4 separate regions of the Homo sapiens genome follow, and regions 1, 2 and 4 are each linked to region 3. Evidence: fine-mapped expression QTL. A gene starts in region 3. Each other region holds a variant in brackets. All regions are shown on one strand. Distances are between the middles of the regions.

Region 1 (4,051 bases), 100 kb after region 3:
ATACAGGGAGCGGGGCGGGAGGGCCCAGACCTAGCCCAGACTCATGAGAACGGTAACCTTGTTATGACCTTGGCCTTCACACAATAACTTCCCTCTGCCCAGCAACGTCCTGTTCTCTTATACACATGGTAAGAGGGAAAATATCTATCTATAAATACATTTATATTTCTAAGAGATCATCATGGAGATTTTTTTTCTCGACCCAGGGAGGGTTGCTTTGTTGCATAGAACAGGGTGTGACGAACCCACGAGCAGCATGCTTGTCTTCCTCCCGTCTTTTAAGTTCAAAGGCTTCTCACTGTACCTAATAAGTCGATGTCTTTACTGATATTATTTCTGATTTCCAGTTTGAAGATGAGAAAACTGGTGGTTATCAAGGCCTCTCTATTCATCCCATTTTATTTGAAGAGCTACTGGATAGTATTTGGAGGGAGACTTTTTTTTTTTTAGCTGGGGAGGGTGGCGGCCACAAAGACAGGGAGCTGTTTCCAAGCAGATAGAGGGTAGGAGCCCAAAGATAAGGATTTGAATACTGCCATGTGGAGAGGCGCTGGTTTTTTTTGTTTGTGTTTTTATAAACTCGGTAGTAGGAATATCTTTTATTGTTTTTCCTGTTGCCTGTTTAAAGGAAAGAGTGTAGCACAAATTGTCCAAATGCCTTGTGCTTTTAGGGGCAGAGTTAGATACTGTCACCCTCTGGCCCTCAGGTCCTGCTTTGTCTGTTCTGCGTGTTGTCTACCCATGAACTAATGAGGCTGCCTGCTTAATTGACCTGGAAAGACAAGTGTCAGTTGAAGAAGATGATGTTGAATTATGAGATTCAGAAACCCATTACATGGCTACTTGGCCCAGCATAGTACCTTCCCCATTTGTTAGACATTCACTATTTGATTAATTAGTAAGAAATTAGAGATGGTGTGGATCATTGAAATCTAGAGCAACCCCTCCAACACCTTGACTTCCCCCTAACACTCTTACTGGGACATCAACTAAAAACAGACTGTGTTTCAGTTCATCCATTGCTTTACCCACTAATAAATGGTTCACCCATCCTTTCTTGAGTGCCTGCTGGATGCTGGGTCTCTTGAGGATGGAAAGACATTGCCTTGCCTTTGAGGCACAGAGTCTCTGCTATATCGATGGATCTGACCACAGTACAGTGGTCACTACAATCGAGGAACTTATTAAATGCAGCAGGGACATGGAAAGAGAATCTGAATCTTCTTGAGATTTTCTTTTGTTTACCCAACCCACCTCATGTAAAGATGTAAAGGTACACAAGTCAAGAGAAGGAAAAGTCTGTGAGTGCCTTTAGTCACTTGCTCCTCCGTAAATGTGCACTTCCTGTTGAATTTACCTTTGAAGGGTCCTGAAAGGAGTGTCTTTGCCCATCCAATGCCCTGACTGCCTCTCCGTTGGGAGTGCACCATGCTATGTGTTTGTGTGAGCCTGTGTGTGTGTTTTGCTTAGAAGTTGCATGTGGCTCTTGTCTTGGCCATGCCAACTCTAAGGAGAAAACACATGTGATCACCATCGAAATTTCCACAATCCAATCAGGCCTGCCAAGGAGGTTTATGGGTCCAGATAAGTGGCTTAGCTACCTGTC[A/G]CATCAAAGGATTCAGTCAACCGACCCAAGGACCAGCATTTTTCCTTGTGCCTTCTTAGAGAAAGTAAAGCAGCCCACGCATAGGAGACCTGGAAAAGTTGGTAGTCTGGGATCTGTAAGGAGCCTCTGCATGAGGCTTCCTCGATGCTGTCATGCTCTGGGCCAGAACTGGGGTCCTGGGAAACACTGGTGGTAGAAGGGAGAGTCTGCCTCTACTAAGAAGGTGGGGGAATGGTGTGGCTTCCTGAGGAGGGAGCTCTTGGGAACAGCAGCCCTGGAAGCCAGAAATCACGTGAGTACATTTGGGTGGCAGTGCACAGGGCAGAAGAGCCACATCACAGCTTCGGTAATGGGACGAGGCGAGCACAGCCCTTTACCTGGAAAGGCAGTGGTTGACTGATCTAGTGATTTGGGAGCAAAAATTCCAGTAGCCCTAGTCTTGTGATTTGCAGCTGAACTGTTTTCCTAATAGTCTTATACATGTGATTTTGTAAAGCATAATGAACACCTCAATCAAGCAGGTGACATCGTGAATCCCAGCATGAGGGTCACGGCATTTCCCATTGAGTGGGATTCAGGCCTGAAGCCAAACCGCTCAAGCCAGATGTTGAGACACAGGAAGTTATTTTAACTAAAATGCTGTAGAAGAGGGCAAGATTGGCAGCTGGGAGAATCAGGCAGCACCTCTTCATTGGGGAGCTGGCTGTGGTATAGGAAATCTAACACAGACGGAGTTTCCCTTTTTTTGTTCAAATGCTGGAAAACCAGGTTTTGGTTTAAGCAGCCAGGTAAAGGCCCACAGTTATGTGCCTTTTATGGCCCTTTGCCATCTTGCCTTCAAAATCTCCAAGAATAACAGATTATTCCTGTGAGCAGGGAAGTAATAATACTTACATGTAATTTTAGATTAGGCGGAGCACTCACAGGTGAGACTTTGCATCTCTTGACACGGTCTGGTCGTTGCTGAAGAACAGGGTAAAAAGTCTTACTTAAAATTTCAGGCAAAAAATGAATATAATCACTGTAGTATTTTCATACATATTTTGACCCTGTTCCTCAGCAACAAAGTCCTGTTGGGACAAGCTGACCACTGGGGGTTCTGGTAGCAAGGTGCAGGTCACGGGGGCGACTGATCTTCTCCCGGGTGTTTGCAGGGCACGCGGCTTGTCCATGCGTATCCAGGGAGCGTCTCTAAACTGCTGTTGGCTCTGGGTTTGCACTATGTGCTTTTCCTTCACTCAGATTAATTAAAGAATTGTCATTTCTCTGCTTTTTGAACACCTGTAAGCGACACCATTTATCCTCAGACCTCCAGGAAGCTTGGCAGTTTTCATATGCTGTGAGAGTATGATTTAAGGACTCAAGTGAGTCCATTTTCCATGATTCAGGTGAGTCCCAGTAGCAGGTTTCTCATTTTCAGATGGAAAAACAAGAATGGCAGAGATCAGAGCCTTTTCTCCCTTTTGTTATGGCCGGGGCTTGGTGTGTGCTCACCTGCTCTCTTTCTCTCTGTCTGTGTATTTGTGTGTCTGCAAGTATGCCTATGTGTGTATGTGGCCGTGTATGTGAATGGGTCAATATGTGTCTGTGTGTGTCTGTGCATGCATGCCGGTGAGCTTCTGTGGCTGTGTCTGTGTGTGAGTGTGTCTGTGCATGTCTGTATGTGCTTGTGTTTGTGGCTGTGTGTGTGTGTGTCTGTGCATGTCTGTGTGTGCATGCTTGTAAGTGTCTATGGCTGTGTGTGTGTGTGTGTGTGCATGTCTGTGTGTGTATGTTTGTGAGTGTCTGTGTGTCTGTACATGTCCGTGTACGTGGTTTTCACTGTCAGAGCAGCAGGACAAGAGGCACTCTCACATCTCCTTCCACAACCTGCCCTGTTCCTCCCTTCCTTATCTGTGGTCCTGGTGGGCCTGGTTTTGCCATGGCCTCTGCCACCTCTCAGCACTCCAGCAGCCCTGCCTGGGGAGGGGAGGCCATGGAGTGCTTTCGCCTTGACGCCCATTTCAGAAACGGAGCAGCCTTACCAGTCGGGTGGTGGACAGTCATCCACCCAGAGCATCCCTCCCTGCTCTCCTGTTTGGTGTGGCCTAGATGGGAACTCCATCTGCCTCGAGGTGGTCCCCATGACTGCAGCAGCTCAGGCCTTGGCCCTGCTGCCCATCCTCCTGCTCACCTGGGGGTCATGTACATTTGATGAGAATGCATTAGAAACCTGGGTTTCCTGGCTCAGTCCTGAATGAAGTAGCAAGTCTCCTCGGGGACAGTTTTGATACCAAATAGCAGAAATATGGCTCCATAGGGCCCACCCTGTGGTACAGTGTGGCTGGGGGAGGAGATGGGTTACAGAATCTTTGAAGTGGCCAGTGACGTGTTCTTAGGCGAAAGCCAGGAAAGGTCGAGGGGAGAGAGGTTTCCAGAGCAGTGGGAGGGGTGGGCGGGAAGCCA
Region 2 (4,051 bases), 170 kb before region 3:
GCGGACGTGTTTTAAGGGTGCGTGGCATTTGTAACACACACAGACATAGAGATGATTCCCATGAATAAGTTTGTTCTGCTCACAGATCCCTAGAAACAGGAAACACAGCCTGCCATGCAGGGCCACATGAGGAAGCACCAAGGCTGGTCAGGGGGCAGACAGAGCAGAGGAAATCCTGGGCAAAAGCTTTTATTGTGGTTTCTGCAGGGAGGAACAGGGAGGCAGGGTGCATGGGCTTAGGAATGGGGCCAGGCTGAATAATTTCAGAGCTCTGGGCCATAGGGGCTGTCCCTGGTTAATGGCCCTGGGGGCTCAGGGCAGGCAAATACTGGCCCTGAGTGTGAGGTCCTGATAAGGGAGTTGGTTGGAGGCGTGGATTTGGGATTAGCTGGTTTGTATGTGAAAGGTGTGTTAGTAGTGTAATTGTTTGCCATCTCCACAGATTAGCTAGTCCTGGGGTGGAGTGGGGAACAGTCCCTCTAGGGTCAGCAAAGCCCCAACATGTCAAAACATCAAAAATGCAGAATGGAGAGATGTGGGTACTACAAGACAATTATTCCTCTGTCTGCCCTGCACTTTTCTCCTCTTAGGCTTTCCTCTCCTCTGTGTTATGATAGGGGTAGCAGACACCATCTTCTCACATCGCCTCCATGGTTTAGTGATTAACTGAGGGGTGGGCTTCTGATCCCAGGTGGCAAAGGTCCATTTCTAGAATTTTTTTTTTTTTGAGTCGGAGTCTCGCTCTGTCGCCCAGGCTGGGGTGCAGTGGCGCGATCTCCACTCACTGCAAGCTCTGCTTCCTGGGTTCACGCCATTCTCCTGCCTCAGCCTCCTGAGTAGCTGGGACTACAGGTGCCCGCCACCATGCCAGGCTATTTTTTTGTGTGTGTGTTTTTAGTAGAGACGGGGTTTCACCATCTTAGCCAGGATGATCTCGATCTCCTGACCTCGTGATCTGCCTGCCTCGGCCTCCCAAAGTGCTGGGATTACAGGCATGAGCCACCGTGCCCGGCCCATTTCTAGAATTTTTAGAGTGGAACTGGGATGGGTTACAATATAGAGAGAAGCACAAAGGAGAGGGAGAGAGGGGAGCCTGGGACATCTGAATCCTGGATCCAGTCATCCCTGAAGCTAACTCTATGTCTGTCCTTGATAGCAAGAGTCATTAACTTGCTCTTTTGCCTAAACTAATTTGAATTGGATTTTCTTCATTTGCATTTTATCTTTATGGAAGAGAAAATATATGCATGTGTTAATTTATTCTTGGAAAGTTCCACGGTGGCTTCTGAAGAGATGCTGAAACACCTAAGTAGCTTCTCTCATACAAGGTGGCATTTCAAAAATTTCCTAAATAACTCACAGGTGCCCGGGTAAAAATTAAAAGGGACTGCACTGTCACGGCAAAATAAAAATTAGTAGATTCAGTTGTGTTTAATCATCTCTGTTTTAAGAACCTGCATTGACCTTACTGAAGGGGTAAATCGAGTACTAATACATCGCAAGACGTGTGAGGGAGTGCTGGTGGGAACCCCCGTTTGCTAAGGCCCTTGGCAATCAGAAATAGGTTTCAGGAAAGTGATATTGCAGGCAATTAGGCAAGTCATTCTCCAGCATCTCTGAGAAAGAGATAGCGTCCCCCTACCCACCTCTCCGAGACAGGGATGTTAACGGCAGCTCCTCTCTACTGTCTGCTGCTGGTGCTTGGAAATGAGACGTGTGTGGGAACTACAAGTGGAATACCAGGAATCTCACTGCACTCGCTTGGATGAGGAAGACAGCCTGGCTCCACTCTCAGAGACACCAGCCCAGGCTGCCATTTAATGGTCCTTTCATTAAATCATCTTTTCCAGCGCTGGCAAGCCCATCCATGACTCTGTGTTTCTCCCTTGCCTATCCTCACCTTCCTTCTAACCTCCCTCTTTTGTATGCAACTTGAAATGTTCAAGATTTAAAAATAAAAATACATCGTAGGCACTCTTGGCCTATGCACCGCTTTTTACAAAGGAAATCAAGCTTTAAATA[A/T]AAGGCAGGAAACTGCTCAGCAACCCCGGCCCCTTTGAAAAGAACGGTTTCTCTGTGCTATTAAGCTGGGGGCACCTCTGCTGGTGGGGCTTGAGTGGCAGCGGGTACAGCATACAGCTACTCAACGTAACCACAGTCACACCCACTCACATTGTCTCCTCAGCCCTGTCTTTTGGAGTTTGGGCAGATGTCCCAGTAGATATTTTTACTTCTGTGACGCTAATAACAAATGACTTTAAAAGCACAATGCGGGAATCCTTCTCTAAATATTTCTGGACTAAAAAAGTATAATTGGCATTGCCAAAGCAAAGCCTCGCTGGCCCTTTTCCTGGTTTTGAATGCGTGACCTCTGCCTGTGGTTCTTTTTCTAACACCTGAACATCCCTCCTCCGTGGAATACAGGTGTGGCATTGTTCCTGTTGCCCTCTGCAACCTGCTTCCTGGAACCCTCAGCGGGAGAGGACAAATACTTAGATAATCACCACACAAATGAAGATCTCCTTTCATTTCCATGTGCGTCCAATTTGGGAACAAAACTCGACACTCAGCTGCAGTCGTCCTTGTTATTAATTATTCATCCATTCATCTATTCAGCTACGTGTTCCATAAACATTTATTAAGTGCCAATTATGTATGAATAAGGCATTGTCTCTGCCCCCTTGTCTGTGTCCTCCTGAAACTCCTGTTCTAATTACGGAGACCTGGCTTGTGCATGAACAGCGAGGTTACAGTATGGGGAGTTTTGTCCCTGTCACCTCCCGCCTTTTGGAGGTTGTTGAGAACACCGCCTGCAAGGGGAGCCTCAGGGGTGCTTCCCGGGGCCAGGTGCAACAGCTCCCACCTCGCAGCACTTTGCGTCTCCTCCACATCTTTTTGGCATTATGGGTCCTTTTACTCTCCTCCTTCCCTCGTGAGGAAACAGGCTAATGGGGACTAAGTGACTTGTGCAAGATGACAGAGTGCGGATTAGAAACCAGGCAGCCTGACTCCTGAGTCTATGACCATCTTGTGGCAGTGTCCCCTCCTTGTAAAAGCAAATAACCACCAACAACAAAACCCTCTCTTGGCTTGGCAACGGTGACACCACCTTCTCCCGGTGTTTTCTTCACCGACTCCTCCCCTTCATTCACACAGCCCTGAAGGGTGCATCCGTGCTCCTCAAAAACCTCATTGGCCCTTGAGTCTTCTACACGCCCTGCCCAGGGGAACGTCTGCAACACATGCATATACAAGGGAGTATGGGAGTGCAGTGGAAAGATGGGGCTATTCTTGTTTAACTCTTTTAATCTGCAGAATGTATAAAGGGAATCATTATGTTTTACAGAATTTTCAGGAAGCATAAAGCATAATCTGCACTAACGCCTTTCATCCCAACACTTTGGGAGGCTGAGGCGGGTGGACTGCTTGAGCTCATGAGTTCGAGACCAGCCTGGGCAACATGGAAAAGTCCTGTCTCTACAAAAACTACAAAAATCAGCCGGGTGTGGTGGTACATGCCTGTAGTCTCAGCTACTCGGGAAGCTGAGGTGGGAGGATGGCTTGTGCCCGGGAGGCAGAGGTTGCAGTGAGCCGAGATGGCGCTACTGCACTCCAGCCTGGGCGACAGAGCCACAACTTGTCTCAAATATGTATATTTGCTGTCAAATATATATATATGTATATAAAATATATAATAAATATATAAAATATATATTTCTATATATAATATTTATATTATATATAAAATATATAATATATATAGCCTTTAGTGTGGAATATATATAATATATAAAATATATATTTAAATATAAATATAAATTTTTATATAAATAAAAATGTATATATATATATTTTATATCTATATCTATATATATTCCACACTAAGGGCTCTAGGCATTGTATGAACAAGGTGGTCCAGCATTATCACACACTGGACATGCCCATATTCAATGGAAAAAAAAATTTATTTTCCAACTGCCAGAATAAGTGGATGTCCTGTCAAGGGAGAAGGCTCTTTGGTCTGAGTCAGGACAGAAGACTCAGCTGGGAC
Region 3 (4,051 bases):
AATAATACATGTCTAACATTCATTGCGCACTTACTCTGTTCCAGGCATGGAGGTCAGAACTTTGCATGTATTAGCTCTTCAAATGAGGGGAGGAGAGGGAAGGAAAAGAAAAGTTAAGCTAATAAATAATGTGAAGTTGAAAAATTACCACGTACACAACGTGCACTATCGTGTCCCCCCCCGCCCCAAGCCCCCAGCTCTTTATATATGTGGTTTCCAGACCCATTTCTCAGCGGTCTGGTGTCTTTTGCAGCCCTTAGGGCCCCTTCCGCCCATTGTTATCTAATCACCCCTTCTCGGCCACGCAGGAAGGTCCACAACCTCCCCTGTCCCCCAAGACCCGCCCCCCGGCAGCCTTCAGAAATAGTTCTCTGGTACGTATGTGCCAGCATTTTATGCAGTAAACACATGTTGCCCTTAACACTGAACTGCAGGTTAAAAATGTATTCCACTAAATTGTGCAGCGGTTAGCTGAGCAAATAATGAAAATGCAAAAGAATACATTCAGTATATGGAGCTTAGAATATATCCTTTTGGAAAGCTAAACATTTTTTTTTTTTTTGCCCCAAATAAGACTAGAAATGGATTGCTCCATTTAAGACTTCCATTAATAAACTTCTCAGAATATGAAATGCCTCCAAAATGTGGGGACGCTGGGTTGAAAGGTGCCGGATAATTCTCTTTGGTGCGTGCGCTGGGTGCAGGAGGAAATATGCTAATGTAGCCGTTTGCCGCAGGGCTGGTGTTATTTATACAGCGCTGGCTGGGCAAGGTTGGCGCTGGAGCAGGAGAGGAGGGAGAGGTTTGTCTTCTTGTGTGAGAGTATAGATGTGTGCGCCTGTGCACACGGCGTTCCAAACGTGAATACAAGATCTTAGGGAGGGGGTGGGGAATGCCATCACGTTTATACTGTGTGTATTATAACTTGTGTTGGAGATATATCCCAGCATCGTGCTTACATCGCATGCACTTAGGAGTGGGGGAAGAAATGGCGATTTGGGAGTGGGTGCGGCGGGTCGCAGGTGGCCAGACACTGCGGGGGACTGGCGACCTGAAATTGGCAAAGGCGCCTCCTTGACCCTGCTCCACGGACACAAAAATCAACCTTATTCGCTCCTGGAAAAAGCGCAGAGGGTTGTTCCCGAAGGCTGAAGACCCTCGGGCTTGGGACTGGGAGCGGGGCGCGGGCAGCGGGACCGCCGGGCACCTCTGAAGAGACAGAGGTCACGGAGACCTGGCGCGCGCGGAGTGGGTGGGGGGCCCGCGCGGCTGCGGGAGCCCAGCCTCAGAGAAGACCCGGCCCACACGTTCTCAGCGCACGCCGACTTTGCCGGGACCCGTCGCCGGCCGGCGACCCCTGCTACGCGCGTCTCCTCCTCCCCCGCCCCGCCCGGCGCGAAACGGGCAACGGGCAGGGGATCCTCCAGCCAGGCGGGCCCGGGGTGTCCCGTTTCCCCCGCCCCCCTCCCGTGGATCCCGGGCGGCGGCGGCCGCGCGTCCGGGCTGGAGGGGGCGCTCGCGAGCAGGAGCCGAGCGCAGCAGGTGCCGCGGTTACCTCCACCTCGGCGGGGGGAGAGGGGGCGGGCCGGGGGGCAGGGAGGAGGGGGAGGAGGAGGAGGAGGAGGAGGAGTGGGGCCGGCTCCAGGAGCTGGAGAGCGCGGCCGGCTCGGCAGGCTGGGTCCAGAGCTCGCGGCTTCCGGGAGGCGCCCGAAGTCGGAGAAATACAGCGCGGCCACCCCGGGAGCAGCAGCCTTTGCCCGCACCGCCGCCCGCAGGGCCCTGAACCGCCGGCAAGGGCGCGGGCCGGGCGCGGCGCCGGCTCCTCCTCCTGCCGCGTCCGGCGCGGAGCAGCGGAGAGCGGCGGGCTCGGCAGCCGGCGCCCGGGCCGCGGAACTGATGAGCCGCGGCGGCTGAGGGCCCGGCCGGCCTCTGCCCGCCTCTGCCCGGCGCCCGAGCGGGGCCGCAGCGCCCGGGGCGCGGGGTCCGGCGGGTGACATGGGGGCGGCCTGACGCACCCGGAGCCGCCGAGCGCTCTCTCTCGAGCCGCGGGCCCTCCTCGGCGGCAGCGGCTGCAGGCGCCTGGCCCGGCGCGCTGTGCCCGGGGCGCCCGCGGAGCCTCCGCCGCGCTCTATGCGCCTCTGCGGGAGCCGCGGGCCCGGGCCATGGCCATAGACCGGCGGCGCGAGGCGGCGGGCGGCGGGCCTGGGCGGCAGCCGGCCCCGGCCGAGGAGAACGGCTCCCTGCCGCCCGGGGACGCGGCGGCCTCGGCGCCCCTCGGGGGACGCGCGGGCCCCGGCGGCGGCGCGGAGATCCAGCCGCTGCCCCCACTGCATCCTGGAGGCGGCCCGCACCCGAGCTGCTGCTCCGCGGCTGCGGCCCCGAGCCTCTTGTTGCTGGACTATGACGGGTCGGTGCTGCCCTTCCTCGGGGGCCTGGGCGGGGGCTATCAGAAGACCCTCGTGCTGCTCACCTGGATCCCGGCGCTGTTCATCGGCTTCAGCCAGTTCTCGGACTCGTTCCTCCTGGACCAGCCCAACTTCTGGTGCCGCGGGGCCGGCAAAGGCACCGAGCTGGCAGGGGTCACCACCACAGGCCGGGGCGGGGACATGGGCAACTGGACCAGCCTCCCCACCACCCCCTTCGCCACTGCCCCCTGGGAGGCTGCGGGCAACCGGAGCAACAGCAGCGGCGCGGACGGAGGCGACACACCACCCCTGCCATCCCCTCCGGACAAGGGGGACAACGCCTCCAACTGTGACTGCCGCGCATGGGACTACGGCATCCGCGCCGGCCTCGTCCAGAACGTGGTCAGCAAGGTAAGGGCCGCAGCCGCCCAGTCCCTCCAACCCTCTCCCTGCAGACCGAGGTCCAAGCCCGAGCCAGCGGGAGAACCGAAGTCCCCAAAGTGGTGGTGCTAGAGTGTGTGTAGGGCATTCCGCATTGGCTTAATCTCCTTCCGTCCCCCAAACCACATGCCTTTACTTGGGTGTAAAGGGAGCACCATAGCCTTTACTAGTTTGCACCCAAACTCCTGTCCCAGTACGCGGATGGAAAGCGCGCCCTTCCCCCACCCTCGGGGCGAGGCAGCTGACCTGTCACCAGCCCCCTCTGGAGGAGTCGGACTGGCGTCGTTCAAGGTCTGCTGGGGGAGTCGGGACCACAGCCCTGTTCTGCCCGGCTAGTTGTCCCTGGGTCTCCCACAAAGCAATAGTCTTCCATCTCGCACTTGATTTTGACACAGGTAAAGCCTACTAAAGAACTGGAGAGCCAGAGAAGCAAAGACTCCTGCAAATCCCCAACCCGCAGCCGATGCTTAGTCCTCCCCAAAGATATCTGACTTTAGGCTTTGCTACCCCAGTGTCTCCTCCCATGTTTTCTCAGCACTTCAGTAAACATCACTACAGTATAGGAAGGACGCGGAGAATATGTCATTTGGGTGTTCCCCGGCCGTCACCGCTCTTACACAGCAGCTGCTTTGGGCTGAGGCACTGAGAACGGGGGTGTGCTTTAGCTGAAACATGCACCTTGTCCTCTGAGTCCTGTAGCTAAAGCTCCCTTGCAGAGGTATTGCGTGGTGTGAAATGTAGCAGAAGGGAGTTGTGAGACAAGTGTGAAGGCCTAAACACAGAGTGGGCAATGGTGGACACTCAATGCCCCTAGACAGCTGTAATTTTATTCTTAACATATAAGAGATATCAAGACATTTGTAGTTTTGCTCCTTGTGTCTAAACTAATTAATTCACATTTTAAAGTAAATACAGACTCTCCTCCACCCCACCCGCTACCCATTCTGGGCTGTTCTGGCAGAGTTTTAAATGCTTTGTCGAAATGTATGAAATTGGACAGTTTTAAATAGTCAATGTGCATGTAACCTCCTCCCCCCGTGTGCATTGGTTAACAGTTGTAGCTCATGGATGTGTAAGATAAACTCTTACATCATCATAATCATTGTTTTAATCTTGTACCAACCTGGCCAGAAATGCTCTGTCCTGTGGGAACTGTCTGACTGAGCTGCCCCTGCTGCCCTGCAAGGTAATGGGGAAGGTCCTTC
Region 4 (4,051 bases), 98 kb after region 3:
CTGATCTAAGTCACAGCTGGTTGGGGTCTTAAGTCCTTAAGCAGTTTAACTTGGGGTCAGGCATAAAATGGGGGGGGTGGGTAGAAATAGAAAATATACAAACAACAGGAATATAAAATGTGGGACACCTTCTGTGGCCTGGACATCCCTGCTGCCTCGAGCTCCCCGCAGCTGCTGATGTTCGCTAGCGCCTCTCGTCACCCCAGTACCACGCTCTGACCTTCTGTTCCTGCTGCACCTGTTCCCCACCCCAGCATCTTTGCCCGAGGGAAGGCTTCGTCCAATCCCGTTCCCGCCCTGGATGACCACGCCAGCTGTGGGCCTGCCTGGCCGAACGCAGGTCTCCATCAGAGGGGCCCGTCTGCATGGGGGTGCCTGCACACCTGTCGTGTCGACATCACTGAGGACCCCTTGGGGGCTCAGGCCAGCTTGAGGGCCTCTTTGTCTCCTAAATAACTGGGACAGTATCTGGGGCTTAGATGAGCAGTCAGCATAGCAATAAGTGACCGGAAATACAGAGATGTGTGGACTAAGACTGTTGAGGTTGACTCGGATGTGTGCAAAGGCCCCAAAGTGACCTCCCTCCACGGTTGAGCCGTTGCCTGAAACCCGACTATGAGAATGCAGTTCTGTATTTTAAGGCAGATGAGACAAATGCCCCCAAGAATGGCAATGCAGTGAGCTCTGTGACTCACCTCACCTCCTGGTGATTGAGCCTTTCTGATCCTCCTGAGTTTAAGGATCCTTGGGTGGATGGGTGGGCGGGGCACAGCTGAGGTCAGAGCTCTCAAAGGCCAATACTACGGACTTGCCTTTTTTGTTGTTGTTTTATTTGGAGGGGGGTGTTTGTTTTATCATGGTAAAATAAACATAGCATAAAAATTACCATTTTAACTACTTTTAATTGTACCATTCAGTGGCATTAAGTAATTCACATTTTTACACAGCCATCACCACCCTTCATCTCTAGAGGTCTTTTCATCTTCCCAAACAAACTCTGTCCCCAATAAACACTCCCCATTCCCATCCCTTAGTCCCGAGCAGCCACCCTTCTACTTTCTGTTTCTATGAATTTGCCTACCTAAGAACCTATTTAAGTGGATCATGCAATATTTGTCCTTTTGTGACTGGCTTACTTCACTTAGCATAATGTCTTCAGGATTCCCTCAGAACAAGGACCTCTAAGGACAAAAATAAGTGAAAATAAGAAAAAAAGAAAAAATGCTTCCTTTATACTATAGCATATGTTGGATATGGCCTCCCTTTTTAAGGCTGAGTTATATTTCATCCTCTGGATGGATCACATTTTCTTATCCATTCATCTGTTGATGGACACCTGCGTTGCTCCCACCTTTTGGCTGTTGTGAATATGCTGCCGTGAACATAGGTGTGCAAATATCATTTCAGGTCCTTGCTTTCACTTTTGGGGGGTTATACCCAAAAGTGGCATTGCTGAGTCAGATGGTAATCCTCTGTTTAATTCTATGAAGAACAGGGATATTGTTTTCTCCAGTTGGCTGCACCGTTGTACATTCCCACCAGGAATGTACTGGTGCACCAGGGTTCCAGTTTCCCCACATTCTTGTCAGCACTTGTTATTTCCTGTTTGTTTGACAGCAGCTACCATCCTGATGGATGTGAAGGGCTACCACATTGTCGCTGTGATGTACATTTCCCCGATGACAGTGACGTTGAGCATCTTTCCATGTGCTTCTTGGCCATCTGTATGTCCTCTTCAGTTTTTGTTTTGTTTTAAACTTGCACTCAGATGGATAGTTATATGTGTGACCTAAGGAGAACCACTCAGTGATGAAGAATAAACGTGGCAACACCAGCTAGCATAGCTTAGCAGCATCTGTTATCTGCCTGAGGGCGGTGAATTCCCAGTGAGATGCTCATTCTAGTACTGTCCTAGAATGAAATGAGTCTCAGCTGGCATGTTCCTCGCTCTCCTTCTCGGTGCCCATCTTTTTCTTAGTTGAAATGATCTGTGATTCTGGATGCAGCCCGTGTTGTTCTGGGACGTCTCTGTATTGCACTAAATTAATAAAGGAGCTTTCATTTTTGCAGTTATGTATTTTGAATTCCCTATTCTCTCTTCATCCTGAATGACTGAGACTTGATTAGACATCGGCACAGCGCACCTGACATGGCGCTGACATGGAAATGCAATGGGTGGCAGCTCGGGGTGCAGACCCCACCCAGGATGCTGTGCCCGAGGGGAGCCAGGGCTTCCCTTTGAAATGGCAAAGGTTCCCACCATCCCTCCAGCCCCCGATGGCAGATCCCTTCTCACTTCTTCCTCACTGGAGCTGTGACTCCTTCCGGTGTTTTCCTTGGGTTGATGAAACAGAAACTCTCCTGGGGCCTTTTTTATTTTATTTTTTAATTTTATTTGTGGTAAGAACATCTAACATGAGACCCACCCTCTTAA[C/A]AGGTTTTTTCAGTGTACAGCACAGTATCGTGAACTATAGACACAATGTGTGCAGCAGAGTTCCAGAGCTTATTCATCTCGCCTGCCTGAAAGCTGATGCTAGTTGACGAGCAACTCCCCATGTCTCCCTCCCTCTACCCCCGGCAACCATCAGCCCACTCTTTGATTTTCTGAATTTGCCTATTTTTACATGCCTCATGTAAGTGGAATCATGTAGTATTTGTCCTTCTGTGACTGGCTTATTTCACTTAACATAATTCCTCCAAGTTCATCCACGTGTCGTACGTGTCAGAATTTCATTCGTTCTTAAGCGGAATCATATTCTATTGTATTTTTCACTGTGTTTCGTGTGTCCCTTCACCTATCAGTGGACCTCTGCGTTGTTTCCATATCTTGGCTGTTGTGGATAACACTGCAGTGAACGTGGGAGCGCTCACGTCAAGTGCTTTGAGATCCTAATTTCAATTCTTTTGGATAAGTACCTGGAAGTAGAATCACTGGATCATATGGCAGTTCTAGTTTTAGTTTTTTGAGGAACTGCCATACTGTTTTCCATAATGGCTGCACCATTTTTGCATCCCTACCAACAGTGTTTAAAGGTTCCAATTTCTCTCCATCCTGGGGACTTTGATACTGAGAACCTAACCTGTCTAGCCTCTTCTGCACTGGCCGCCTTTGCAAGAGCTGGTTGCCTCTCTGAAAACTCTCCTCCCAGGCCTCTTCCCTTCCCCTCACCCACATGGCAGGACAGTCCTACTTCCTTTTCCCTTAAGGGAAGATTCAAATGCTGCTTCTTTGGTGAAGTCTTCCCCAGGCCTCGTCCCTTTCTTTGCATTCCTGTAGCACAGAACCCCATCTGTGTCTTATAGGCACGTGTCTCTTCATCAGACTGTGAGCCCCTTGAGGCCGGTGGTGTGGCTTCATCTCGGCATCTCCCCTGGCATGGTGCTACCTCATCCTCCTTGCTGAATAAGTGAATGAAATGCATTCATTATACACAGCCGCCTTCTGTTTTCCATTATTTGTCATTATTCAGTGTGTTCTGTGAACCAGGAGCTGGGCATGGCTTGTTGAATAAGAACACAGTCCCTAAACTAAGGAGCTTTTAGGCTGGTAACCAAAAAGGGAAATTCTAAATTTTTTTATGATAAGCTTTTAGATATCTTTTTGATATTTAGAATGAAGTAAACACAGTAGATGTAGTCCAATTTTGGAAATCATTTAAGACCTGAGCCTAATTGAGCAGGTAGAAAGCCAGGAAGAACACACCTACTTTGTATTTGCAGTCCTTTCCTCATGCTAATTGATAAGGCGATTAATCCTTACACTATTGCTGAGCCACAACCCCATTTAAAAATAAAAATTAGGAAAGCTGTCTGGATAATTATTAGCAAAGACTTTACAGAGGCTGGGATAAGTCCTCCAGCTGGTTGTTTGCACTGGGAGTTTTACAGTGTACTTGACCTTTGCTTAAGGTAAGGGAGTTTGTTTGGCAAAAACAATGATACATATTTCCATGGCATTGGAATCCTGCTGGATTTCTGAGACTCTGGGAATGCAGATGTGGGCACTGGAGTAAATGTGAGCATTTCATTACAGTGCCTGCCTTGTTTTGGG

Alleles and levels. Alleles are on the strand shown, and positions count from the first base shown. SD is a standard deviation of normalised expression in the study named. Not every link is listed here.
With allele A in place of T in region 2, the expression in naive CD8 T cells of the gene that starts at base 1,672 in region 3 is higher (large effect, 0.81 SD a copy in Schmiedel 2018).

The links.
Region 1: its variant is fine-mapped to the expression of SLC22A23 in whole blood (INTERVAL, PIP above 0.99).
Region 2: its variant is fine-mapped to the expression of SLC22A23 in naive CD8 T cells (Schmiedel 2018, PIP 0.95).
Region 4: its variant is fine-mapped to the expression of SLC22A23 in whole blood (INTERVAL, PIP above 0.99).

What each region holds. Positions count from the first base shown.
Region 1 is chr6:3,351,583-3,355,633 of GRCh38, reverse strand. The region is part of intron 3 of SLC22A23 (solute carrier family 22 member 23); the gene reads left to right. Among named protein-coding and RNA genes, the nearest start is that of PSMG4, 95 kb to the right of the region's middle. RefSeq lists an enhancer at 3,611-4,051. The variant A/G (reference allele first, on the strand shown) is at 1,607.
Region 2 is chr6:3,626,720-3,630,770 of GRCh38, reverse strand. All of the region lies in intron 3 of LOC100507336 (a long non-coding RNA gene), which reads left to right. Among named protein-coding and RNA genes, the nearest start is that of PXDC1, 120 kb to the left of the region's middle. The variant A/T (reference allele first, on the strand shown) is at 2,023.
Region 3 is chr6:3,454,671-3,458,721 of GRCh38, reverse strand. It overlaps SLC22A23 (solute carrier family 22 member 23), which reads left to right and starts at 1,672. Exons shown (of 10, transcript NM_015482.2): 1 at 1,672-2,816. The coding sequence starts at 2,163. It overlaps LOC643327 (a long non-coding RNA gene), which reads right to left and starts at 3,019. Exons shown (of 2, transcript NR_147844.1): 1 at 2,471-3,019. RefSeq lists silencers at 1,395-1,614, 1,675-1,904.
Region 4 is chr6:3,357,085-3,361,135 of GRCh38, reverse strand. All of the region lies in intron 3 of SLC22A23 (solute carrier family 22 member 23), which reads left to right. Among named protein-coding and RNA genes, the nearest start is that of SLC22A23, 98 kb to the left of the region's middle. The variant C/A (reference allele first, on the strand shown) is at 2,435.